Regions from separate parts of the Homo sapiens genome. Here region 1 is linked to region 2. Evidence: fine-mapped expression QTL. A gene starts in region 2. The other region holds a variant in brackets. All regions are shown on one strand. Distances are between the middles of the regions. Region 1 has its middle 12 kb from the start of GBA1. Region 2 holds the start of THBS3 (thrombospondin 3).

Evidence for each region. PIP is the estimated chance that this variant, and not a neighbour inherited with it, causes the effect.
Region 1: its variant is the best candidate, but not a certain one, in a credible set for the expression of THBS3 in whole blood (INTERVAL, PIP 0.90).

What each region holds. Positions count from the first base shown.
Region 1 is chr1:155,227,150-155,232,149 of GRCh38, forward strand. It overlaps the pseudogene GBA1LP and the pseudogene MTX1LP. Among named protein-coding and RNA genes, the nearest start is that of GBA1, 12 kb to the right of the region's middle. RefSeq lists an enhancer at 1-364 and a silencer at 270-319. The variant C/G (reference allele first, on the strand shown) is at 2,375.
Region 2 is chr1:155,205,282-155,210,281 of GRCh38, forward strand. THBS3 (thrombospondin 3) reads right to left here and starts at 2,616. Exons shown (of 23, transcript NM_007112.5): 1 at 2,517-2,616; 2 at 919-1,125; 3 at 1-35. The coding sequence starts at 2,595. It overlaps MTX1 (metaxin 1), which reads left to right and starts at 3,414. Exons shown (of 8, transcript NM_002455.5): 1 at 3,414-4,051. The coding sequence starts at 3,524. It overlaps THBS3-AS1 (THBS3 antisense RNA 1), which reads left to right. Exons shown (of 6, transcript NR_183238.1): 6 at 1-208. RefSeq lists an enhancer at 1,617-2,400 and a silencer at 3,764-3,963.

The DNA of each region.
Region 1 (5,000 bases), 22 kb after region 2:
CTCCGTGAACGTTTGTCACATGTCCGAAGAATGAATGAATTATATACCTTTCTTCCCACTCCAGCCCTCAAAAAGCAAGTGGATACAAAGACTTGAAGATTTTATAATCGCTTCATTAGTAAAATTTGACCATCCTTACCATTAAAAATAATGATAATGATGAAAAAGGCTAAGTGCGAACGCCGGGAGGGGAGAGCTAAAATTCAAAGGGCGAAATATTTATAATGCCTACCGTCGGCGAAGAGAAACAGCAGCCCCAACCGAAGGCAAAAGGAAATCCCACCGCAGCCTCCAAAGGCGCGTGGGCGGGACTGGAGAATGGGGCCCTGCGCACTAGGCGCGGAAGTCAAGAAGCAGCCCCACCACCCGTGCCGCGAGAAAAGCAGCCCTGGGGAGGCGGGGCGGGGCCTCACTTGGAAAAGAGACGGTCACTCATCCAGAGGCGGGACTCAGAGCCCCTCCACAAGTCTCATTGGTCCATTTGAAGACGGACAACTCTCCCTGACCATCCGTAGCACAGACGGGGCGCAAGCGTATTGGAAAGGGAGCGGGTGCCAGACGCGAGAACTACGCATGCGTCTCAGCGCTTTCCCGCCAGCACACCCTTAGTGGGTGGGGGGGGGCGATTGAATTCCCACAGTGAGTCCAGCCCACCGAAGCTGAGAGGATTCCTAACCTTCCTCTTCAGAGAGCCTCAGGTTAGGGAACGTCCAGTGCCCAAAAGCTGCCCTGTGGGAATCCCATTGTCCACCGCCTCTTACCTAATGTTTCGTTCTGGCCTTGCCCCATCTCTTCCTGAGGCTGGGTTGTTACGATGGTGAATTATTCAAGATGTCTTGCAGCCTGACGCCATCTCTGGGCAGTGCTCCTGCATCCTCCCTGTCTTCCTTGGGAGGGCACCACGTTGCTCTTACAAGCACAGGGTCCTGAAACTGTTTACAAGGCCCCACTCTGCCACGTTAGTATCTTAACGAGTGTTTGTTGAGGAAGCACTGTGTGTTAGACCCAGTGCAATGAGCAAGTCCCTGATCTTGTGACCTTACATTCTACAGGACGACACAAACGTATAAACAAAAAATAATTTTAGATAGTGATACATGCTTAAAACATGGCTATGTGGCCGGGAGCAGTGGCTCACGCCTGTAAATCCAACATTGTGGGAGGCTGAGGCAGGTGGATCACTTGAGGTCAAGGAGTTCGAGACCAGCCTGGCTAACATGGCAAAACCCCGTCTCTACTGAAAATACAAAACTTAGTCAGGCGTGATGGCAGACACCTGTAATCCCAGCTACTCGGGAAGCTGAGGCAGGAGAATCGCTTGAACGCAGGAGATGGAAGTTTGCAGTGAGCCCAGATCACACCACTGCACTCCAGCCTGGGTGAGAGAGCCAGACTGTATCTCAAAAAAAAATAAAATAAAATAAAATAAAGCTATGTGATAGAATGACTGCGATGGGGATTAGGTCCTCACTGAAATGGTGAGAGTGGAGTTAAAACCTGAAATTAGGTGACAGCACCAGATATATCTGCCCGAGGGTTTCGTGCTTGGAAAATAGCAGGTGCAAACGTCCTTGTGCTGTGAGGAAATTTGGCTGGAACAGAAGGTGGGCCAGATTGTAGCTGACCATAGTCTCTGAGAGCTTGGAGATGATTCTAAATACAATGGGAAGCCATTAAATTGAGGCAGAGCCTTGATGTGACGTGCTTTATCATCATTTTGCTGAGTGGAGAATGGATTGCTGGGAAAAGTGAAAGATTGATTCAGAGGTTGTGGAGAGAGGGTGGCTGGAACTAGGTAGCTGGGGAGGTGGTGGGACGTGGATGAATTCAAGATAGGATTGGTTGTGTTGGATATGGGAAAAGAAGTCACCATGGTTCCTGGGCTTTTGGAATGTGCAAATGGGTAATGGAGGTGCCATTGAGATGGGAACAGTGGAAAAATAACCGGTGCTGGGGTGGGAATGAAGAGCTCAGTTGTGTGGCCGGGCGCAGTGACTCACGCCTGTAATTCCAGCACTTTGGGAGGCCGAGGCAGGGGGATCACCTGAGGTCAGGATTTGCAGACCAGCCTGGTCAATATGGCAACACCCTGTCTCTACTAAAAATACAAAAACATTAGCCGGGTAGCGGGGCCTATAATCCCATCTACTCGGGAGGCTGAGGCAGGAGAATCGCTTGAACCCTGGAGGCAGAGGTTGCAGTGAGCCAAGATCTCGCCATTGCACTCCAGCCTGGGCAACAAGAGCAAAACTCTGCCTAAAAAAAAAAAAGAGTTCAGTTAGTTCAGTTGTGGCCATGTTGAATTTGAAATACTCATTAGACATCCAACCAGATATGCTGAGTTGGATGGCGCTCAAGAGAGGTCAAGGCTGGA[C/G]TTATGCATTAACACATAGAAAGATGGTACTTAAAGCCATGGACGTTAGTAGTAGGGCCACCTACAGAAAGAGTGGAAGTAGAAAAGAGGGCTTACGGTGGGCAATGTGGTTCACGCCTCTAATCCCAGCACTTTGGAAGGTCAAGGCAGGCACATCATTTGAGGTCAGGAGTTTGAGACCATCCTGGACAACATGGTGAAACCCCGTCTCTACTAAAAATACAAAAACTAGCCGGGTGTGGTGGCATGCACCTGTAGTCCCAGCTACTCAGGAGGCTGAGGCAGGAGAATCGCTTGAACCCAAGAGGCGGAGGTTGCAATGAGCCAAGATTGCACTGTTACACTCCAACCTGGGTGACAGAGCAAGACTCCATTTAAAAAAAAAAAAAATTGATGGCCGGGTGCAGTGGCTCATGCCTGTAATCCCAGCACTTTGGGAGGCCGACGCAGGCAGATCACGAGGTCAGCAGATCGAGACCATCCTGGCTAACAAGGTGAAAACCTGTCTCAACTAAAAATACAGAAAATTAGCCAGGCATGGTGACAGGCACCTGTAGTCCCAGCCACTCAGGAGGCTGAGGCAGGAGAATCGCTTGAACCTGGGAGGCGGGGGTTGCAATGAGCCGAGATCGCACCATGCACTCCAGCCTGGCAAAAGAGCAAGACTCCATCTCAAAAAAATAAATAAAATAAAATAAAAATGACGGCTGGGAGCAGTGGCTCACGCCTGTAATCCCAGCATTTTGGGAGGCTGAGGTGGGCAGATCACGAGGTCAGGAGATCGAGACCATCCTGGCTAACATGGTGATACCCTGTCTCTGTTAAAAATACAGAAAATTAGCCAGGCATGGTGGCAGGCACCTGTAGTCCCAGCTACTCGGGAGGCTGAGGCAGGAGAATAGCATGAACCTGGGAGGCAGAGCTTGCAGTGAGCCGAGATCGTGCAACTGCACTCCAGCCCGGGCAACAGAGCAAGACTCCGTCTCAAAAAAATATATAAAAAATAAAAGAAAAGAAAAAAAACAAAAACAAAGAAGGCTTACGTGAGACCCTTGGGGCCCTCTACTGTTAACCAGTTCAGGAGAGGTGTAAAAGTTTGTAAAGGATAACCAGAGCACAAAGTAGAAGAGCAATGTCCTCAAAGGGAAAAATTCAAGAAGATGCTGATTATGGAGATTAATTGCTGCTTCAAGGTCAAGTGAAATGCAGGCAGAGAAATGGTCACTGGGTCTGACACCACTTTTGGTCACTCAAATTTTGGTCAGAGCAGTGGCTGAAGAAACACAGGGGAAGGAGTCTGATGGGGGTGGGTGATAAGAGAATGGATGTTTAAGTGTGGAGGGAAGAAAAAGAAAACCTATTGCTATGAAAAGGAGCAGAGATAGAATTCGTGGTTGGAAAGTGTGTCTTGAAAGTTTCTTTTTTCTTAAAAGTTTCTTGTGCACCATATAGCACAAGATCAGCAACCCCTGGCAGAGCCCTTCAGGTACCCAGTATCCCTTGGGGGTGAGGAAGGGTGTGTACAAGAGGAGAAGCAGGAGATAGGCAGGAATGTGTTGCAACTACGTATGGATAGGCAGCTAAGGTCCTGGTTGGTATACTTTTCTCTCAGTATCAGGAACCCTGCCTGCCCTTTGGACCAGTCATGGAGAGGTCACCTCAGTACCACACAAGATCATCACCCACCTTCAAAAAGAGGTGGGTGATTTGGATAGAGGGGGCTGCCAGTGAGAGAAGTTCAGTCAATTCCGTACAATACACATTTATTGAGCACTAGATATATGCCATGCTAGATGCAGGTGACCCAGAGCATCAAGGAGCAATAGTCTGGTGGCAGAGACACACACAATGTCACTGTGATGTATTAAAGCAGTCGGCAAGAGATGCAGCTCAGGGCACTGTGGGGATATCCAGAGGCACGGTACCTTCTGCCTGTCAGTCAGGGAGGGAGAGGAGCACAGGCTGAAGGAGACTGGAAGACAGCAGTTGGCCTCTGATAGTGGGACTGGAGAGAGATTTCTAAGGGCCACTTCTTGTTTTCAGGGACTAGGTTGGGCTAGATATGGGGCTCAGGATGGACAAGGCTTAGAGCCAGGTTGGAGAAGATGAAAGAGCATTACTAGAGGAGTGGGGAGGCCTAGGCTATGCTCTTTACTCTGCCATTGACTGCGTGATCTTGGGCAGGCCATGTAACCTCTCAGGGCTGTGCACTCCCTTATTTGTAAAACTAGAGGGCTGGGCCAGCATGTTTTCCAAGGGTTCTTCTAGCATTGACGGTCAGGTTCCAAGAGGGAACACAGTGTCAGAAGTGGGACACTCTTCCTAATTTCTAATTTCCCAAAGGTTAAGGACCTGGGGAATTAATTGAGAGGCCTGGAAAGAGGATCCAGATAAAAGCCTAAGTTCCTGGCAAGGCCAGGGCCACTGCCCTGATTGCTTAGGTGTGAACAGAGCTTTTTGTTTCCGAAGTATTCTAAATTATTTCCTAACACAGGGGCATTCAGAGAAAGAGATTCTTACCCCCATTCCACAGGGGAGAAACTGAGGCTTAGGGAGATTTAAGGATCATGCTGAAGAGGTTATCTGGGGACAAAGCTTACTCAGGATGTGGTGGGGGATGCTGAGG
Region 2 (5,000 bases):
GACTTTGCCATCCTCCCGCTGGTATCGCACCAGTACTGCCCAGGAGGGGAGATCAGTATGGGCGCTATCCCCCACCCCCTGCCTCCCAGCTGAGCCTTGGATCAACTCTGCTAGATACCACATCTCTAGGGCCCCTATCCCTAATTCTACTATGTGGCTCTCAACACCTTGTATTTAATAGGTACACAATAAATGTTTTTGAAATTGCTTTAGAGGCCAGGCACGGTGGCTCACACCTGTAATCCCAGCACTTTAGAAGGCCAAGGTGGGCAGATCACTTGAGGTCAGAAGTTCGAGAACAGCCTGGTCAACATGGCGAAACCCTGTTTCTACTAAAAATACAAAAGTTAGCCAGGCATGGTGGTGGGCACCTGTAGTCCCAGCTACTCAGGAGGCTGAGATAGGAGAATTGCTTGAACCCAGGAGGCAGAGGTTGCAGTGAGCTGAGATTGTACCACTGCACTCCAGCCTAGGTGACAAAGCAAGACTCCATTTAAAAAAATAATTGGTTTAGAGACAAATACTTTCTTAGTCTTCATTGGTATCAGATGACTGTATCCTCTCCTAGGGTGACAGCTGGTTTTGTGGCCACTGACCTGTTCCAGGGATCTGAAAGACCTTTCTGTATCACCGCTGAGGCACAGAGACATGCCTCACCCTCCTTCCAGGCATCCCCAAGTACAACCTCCCATCCCTATAAATATCAGGACTCAAGCCTCACCCTATTGTTTGGTACATGGGCTCCTAAAGCACCTTATAAGCACCCCATACCAGGTGCCCCTGATGTCTGGGCACAGCCTGATGGGACCTTGGTCCCTAGTGGAGGCCAAGGAGAATGAGGAAGCACTTGGGAAGTAGGGATGAGGGAGAGTGCTTAAGGAGGTCACCATTGCAAGAAAGGAGATGCCCACCAGTCACCTTTGTTGATCTTGCCTACAACAGAGGCCTCCAGCCATCGAGTGTTGTCTTGGCGAGAATAGAGGCCAAAGAGGACACCACCCTGCTTGGGGGGCAGGCGGAAGGTGGATAAGAGGTAGATGTCCCCAGCAGTGAGCAAGGCTGTCCGGATCTTCTCTGCCACAGCTACCATCTGCCGAGACTCGCCCACAGTCAGCAGGTCAATTACTGGTCAGGCAGGGGTTATCAAGGTTAGAGAATGGGATCAAATGCTAAGGTATGCCCTCCCCCGAGCCCACATCACCCCCTACCCCCACCACCAGGCAGCGTTAGTCACCTCAAAATTCAACCCTTGGCTGGGCATGGTGGCTCGCACCTGTAATCCCAACACCTTGGGAGGTTGAGGCAGGTGGATCGCCTAAGGTCAGGAGTTCGAGACCAGCCTGGCCAACACGGTGAAACCCCGTGTCTACTAAAAATACAAAAACAACAACAAAAAAGAAAAAAAAACCACCTAGCCGGGCGTGGTGGCGGGCACCTGTAATCCCAGCTACTCAGGAGGCTGAGGCAGGAGACTCGCTTGAACCTGAGAGGTGGAGGTTGCAGTGAGCCGAGATCGCGCCATTGCACTCCAGCCTGGGCAACAAGAGTGAAACTCCATCTCAAAAAGACAAAACGAAAACAAAAAAAAACCTCAACCCTTGTTGCTCTCAGAGGACAGAGGCACTGTGCCTTCCTTTCCCCATTATTGCCTATTACTACCTTCCAGGAACCTGCAGGTTTGAGACTCACTTGGAAACACAGAAACAGCACCCCACAAATTTGAGATGCCCCCACCAGGTGGCGCAAAGGAGATGCTGTGCTGATCCCCCACAGGAGTGGCACCTGGTGTCCACAACGTAGAAATGGAAGGCAGCTTCTCTTTCCACTCCTGGGTTTGGCTCGTTCCACACCCTAGTTCCCCTCCTCCCATCCTAGGGGCGCAGCACACTCGCTCTGGATAAGAACAGCTGCCCACTGAGGACTCTAACCCTCCCACCATCTGGGCTATCTCCCACGGGAATGTAGGACCCAGCTCCTCTGCCTCCTGTGTCCTGGCCAATCTGTGGTTTTCCCTCCAGCCAGTAAAGAATCTATGCCTGTGTCATCTGCTCCAGCTACCTCTCCCACATCCATCGGCCCATCCCACCACCAGACCTCCGGGAGAGCCCAGGCTTCTTGGTCCCCACCCCCGCCCTGTCCTTGGGCAGCCAGGAGCCCAGGGGGACGAAGCCCAGGGACCTACAGTACGCCCACCTTCAGGCTGCTCTCCCAGACCCTAGGGTGCCTACAGATGCTCAGGAACCACCCCAGCCAGGCAGCCTGAGCATCCAGTTCCTGAGTCCTCTGCCCTGGCCTCATGCCTGACCCTGTCCTGTTCCAGCTCCCCCACTACTCTCCGGTGCCCACTCCTCTCCACCAGGCCATAATTTCACCAACTCTAGGCAGTCTTAAGTTTTCCTCTGGCTCAATTTCTGGACTCTTCCCCTCTCCCCTTGCCCACATGTTCTCTGCTACTTGGGCTGAGGGCAAATGGGGAAGAAGCAGAGAGCGGTCTAAGAGGATGGAGACAGGCTTACCCTGCAGATCCTGACTGGCAGATGTGAAAAAGCAAAGGAGGAGAAGAGCCAGGGCCCCCCGAAGTTCCTGCGTCTCCATGCCTCTCAGCCGGCTCACTACCCCTGGCAGGCAGGCAGCTGGGAGGGGAAAAGGCTAGGCGGAGAGAGCAGGAGCCGGGGGGCGGAGGGACAGAATTGGAGGGGGGGCCAGCAGGCGGGTGAGGGGGGGCTGAAACAAAGAGCTGCCAATCACCCTGGAGGCATCATCAGCTCTGGGAACCAGGGGCACTGGGAAAGAATCCTGGAGGCCTCCCTGCTTTCTACCTCTCCCTAATGATCCTCCCCCAGGTGCCTCCCTCTCCGCAGTCATCATTGTTGGGGGTCTCGGCACACAGCGCTACCGAATGCCACTGTTTTCTGGAAGCCACGATTGTGGAAGGCAAGAACCCCTGGCAGGGGCAGTGCTAGACAGTGGGCATTATTCCACAGCTGGCAGGAAAGGATGCCAAGGGAGTGGCCGCAACTAGCTTGCTATAGTGCCCAGGGATGCCCACATGGCATGAATTTTGCTGTTCTGGCGGAGCAAGTGCTCTTTATTAGGGTGGGGGGTCCCCTGACAAGTGCCTGTTTCTCCATTTTCCCTCATTCGTAGGAAAGCTTGGGAGTCTGGAAGCGTCTGACGGGAACTGAAGGGAGAATCTAAAGCAGTGGTCAGTGAGGTCAGAGTGAAGAAACCAAAAAAGAGGAAAGGGACACCAGGGACAGGCGCAGAAGACCAGGGGTACAGGCGAGGAGCCAAGGACCAGACTGTGGAACACTGTGGGTACTAGCGGACGGGCCGTGACCCGGATGAAGCAGAGGGGCGCCTGAGTTCCCGTCACCTAAGCGACAGCCTGCGAGCCTCTCTTCCCCTCCCCCACCCAAGCCCCAGCCCGGCCTCCGCTCCGGCCGCCGCCACCGCCCCTGTTTTGTTTCCATGGCGACAGGCGGCGCAGGGCCCGCTCCAAACATAACGCGCTGTGGAAAACATGCTGCTCGGGGGACCCCCCCGCAGTCCCCGCTCGGGGACGAGCCCCAAGGGGCCCTGGAGCAGTACAGGCCACGTGCAGTTTGGCAAGAGCCCCCAGACCTGGCCCAGGCGCACAAGACCCCGCTCTCCAGAGCCTGCCGCGCCTTCAGGGGTTCGGGGCTCCACTTGGACGAGGCGCCGTGACTCTCCGAGGCGCGCCGGGCCGACAGCGCTGTCCCGCTACGTGGGCCACCTCTGGATGGGCCGGCGGCCGCCCTCCCCCGAGGCCCGCGGCCCAGTCCCCCGCAGTTCAGCTGCCAGTCGGGCCAGAAGAAGCCTCGCCTCCCCGGGGATCTCCCCAGGCCCCCTGACCGCAACGATCGGAGGGGCGGTGGCGGGGGGCGGGCCCAGGCAGGGGAGGGCAGAAGCACACAAGGAAGTGTTTCCGGGACAGAGGGTGGGCAAGATGGCGGCGCCCATGGAGCTGTTCTGCTGGTCAGGGGGCTGGGGGCTGCCGTCAGTGGACCTGGACAGCCTGGCCGTGCTGGTGAGGGGTGGCGCCGGCGCCCTCTGCTGTGCCCTGATGACTGGGGAGGGGGCCGAACTAGCCAAGCATCCAAACCTTGCCAGGGCTACTCAGCACGGGCGCAGTGGGGGAAACTGAGGCAGTCAAAGAGCGTACGTGGCCGATATGGCCTCAGTGCCCTATGCTGTAGTTTTCTAGGCTTAATGCAGCAATGAAAAGACGCCTGGTTGGGAGTTCAGGTGATGGGTTCTAGTCCTTGCTCATCCATTCACTGGCTGTGTGACCTTGCGGAGATCCTTTCTCTTTGGGCATTTTTTTTCTCCATTCGGAGGTTTACTAGGCTGGACTGTCTCAGGGACCTACTCTAGCTTGGAATTCCTGCCTTCTCCTCAGCCCCCTTCTCCTCTTCCTCCTCACTTAACAGCATTTACTGAGGCTATTGTTTGTTAGACCAAACGACTCACAGCCAGGCTTTGTATAAAGAGCTTAGCAATCAGACTTCCTTTGCTTCATTTATTCATTGACTCCTTGCTTTAAAGAGGATCTATTAGATTTCTTCCAAATATTAAACATTGCCAGGCAAAGATGAATAAAATTTGGTTCCTCCCTTCGAGTTTACAGAAAGGCAGATAGGTAAGCAAATAAATATAATAAAATATTCACATATAAGTTAAAGTAGGAACAGACCACAGATACTGCCAAAGAGAAGGGCATTATCAGTGCTTCCAAGAAGAGGGATACTGGTTAGGAAAAGCTTCTGAGGATAGATGTTCACCAGGTAGATGGCAAGAGAGGAGATAGAGGAAAGGATTTTCCTGGCTGTCCTGTAATCACAGACATGTCCGGAATCTCTCTGAGCCCTGTGTTGTCCATTTGTAAAATAGAAATGGTAGTGACTCCCCCTTTTTTTTCGAGACTAAGATACTAAGTATAGGGAATGGCACATAAGGTATTCAATAAATGTTATTTC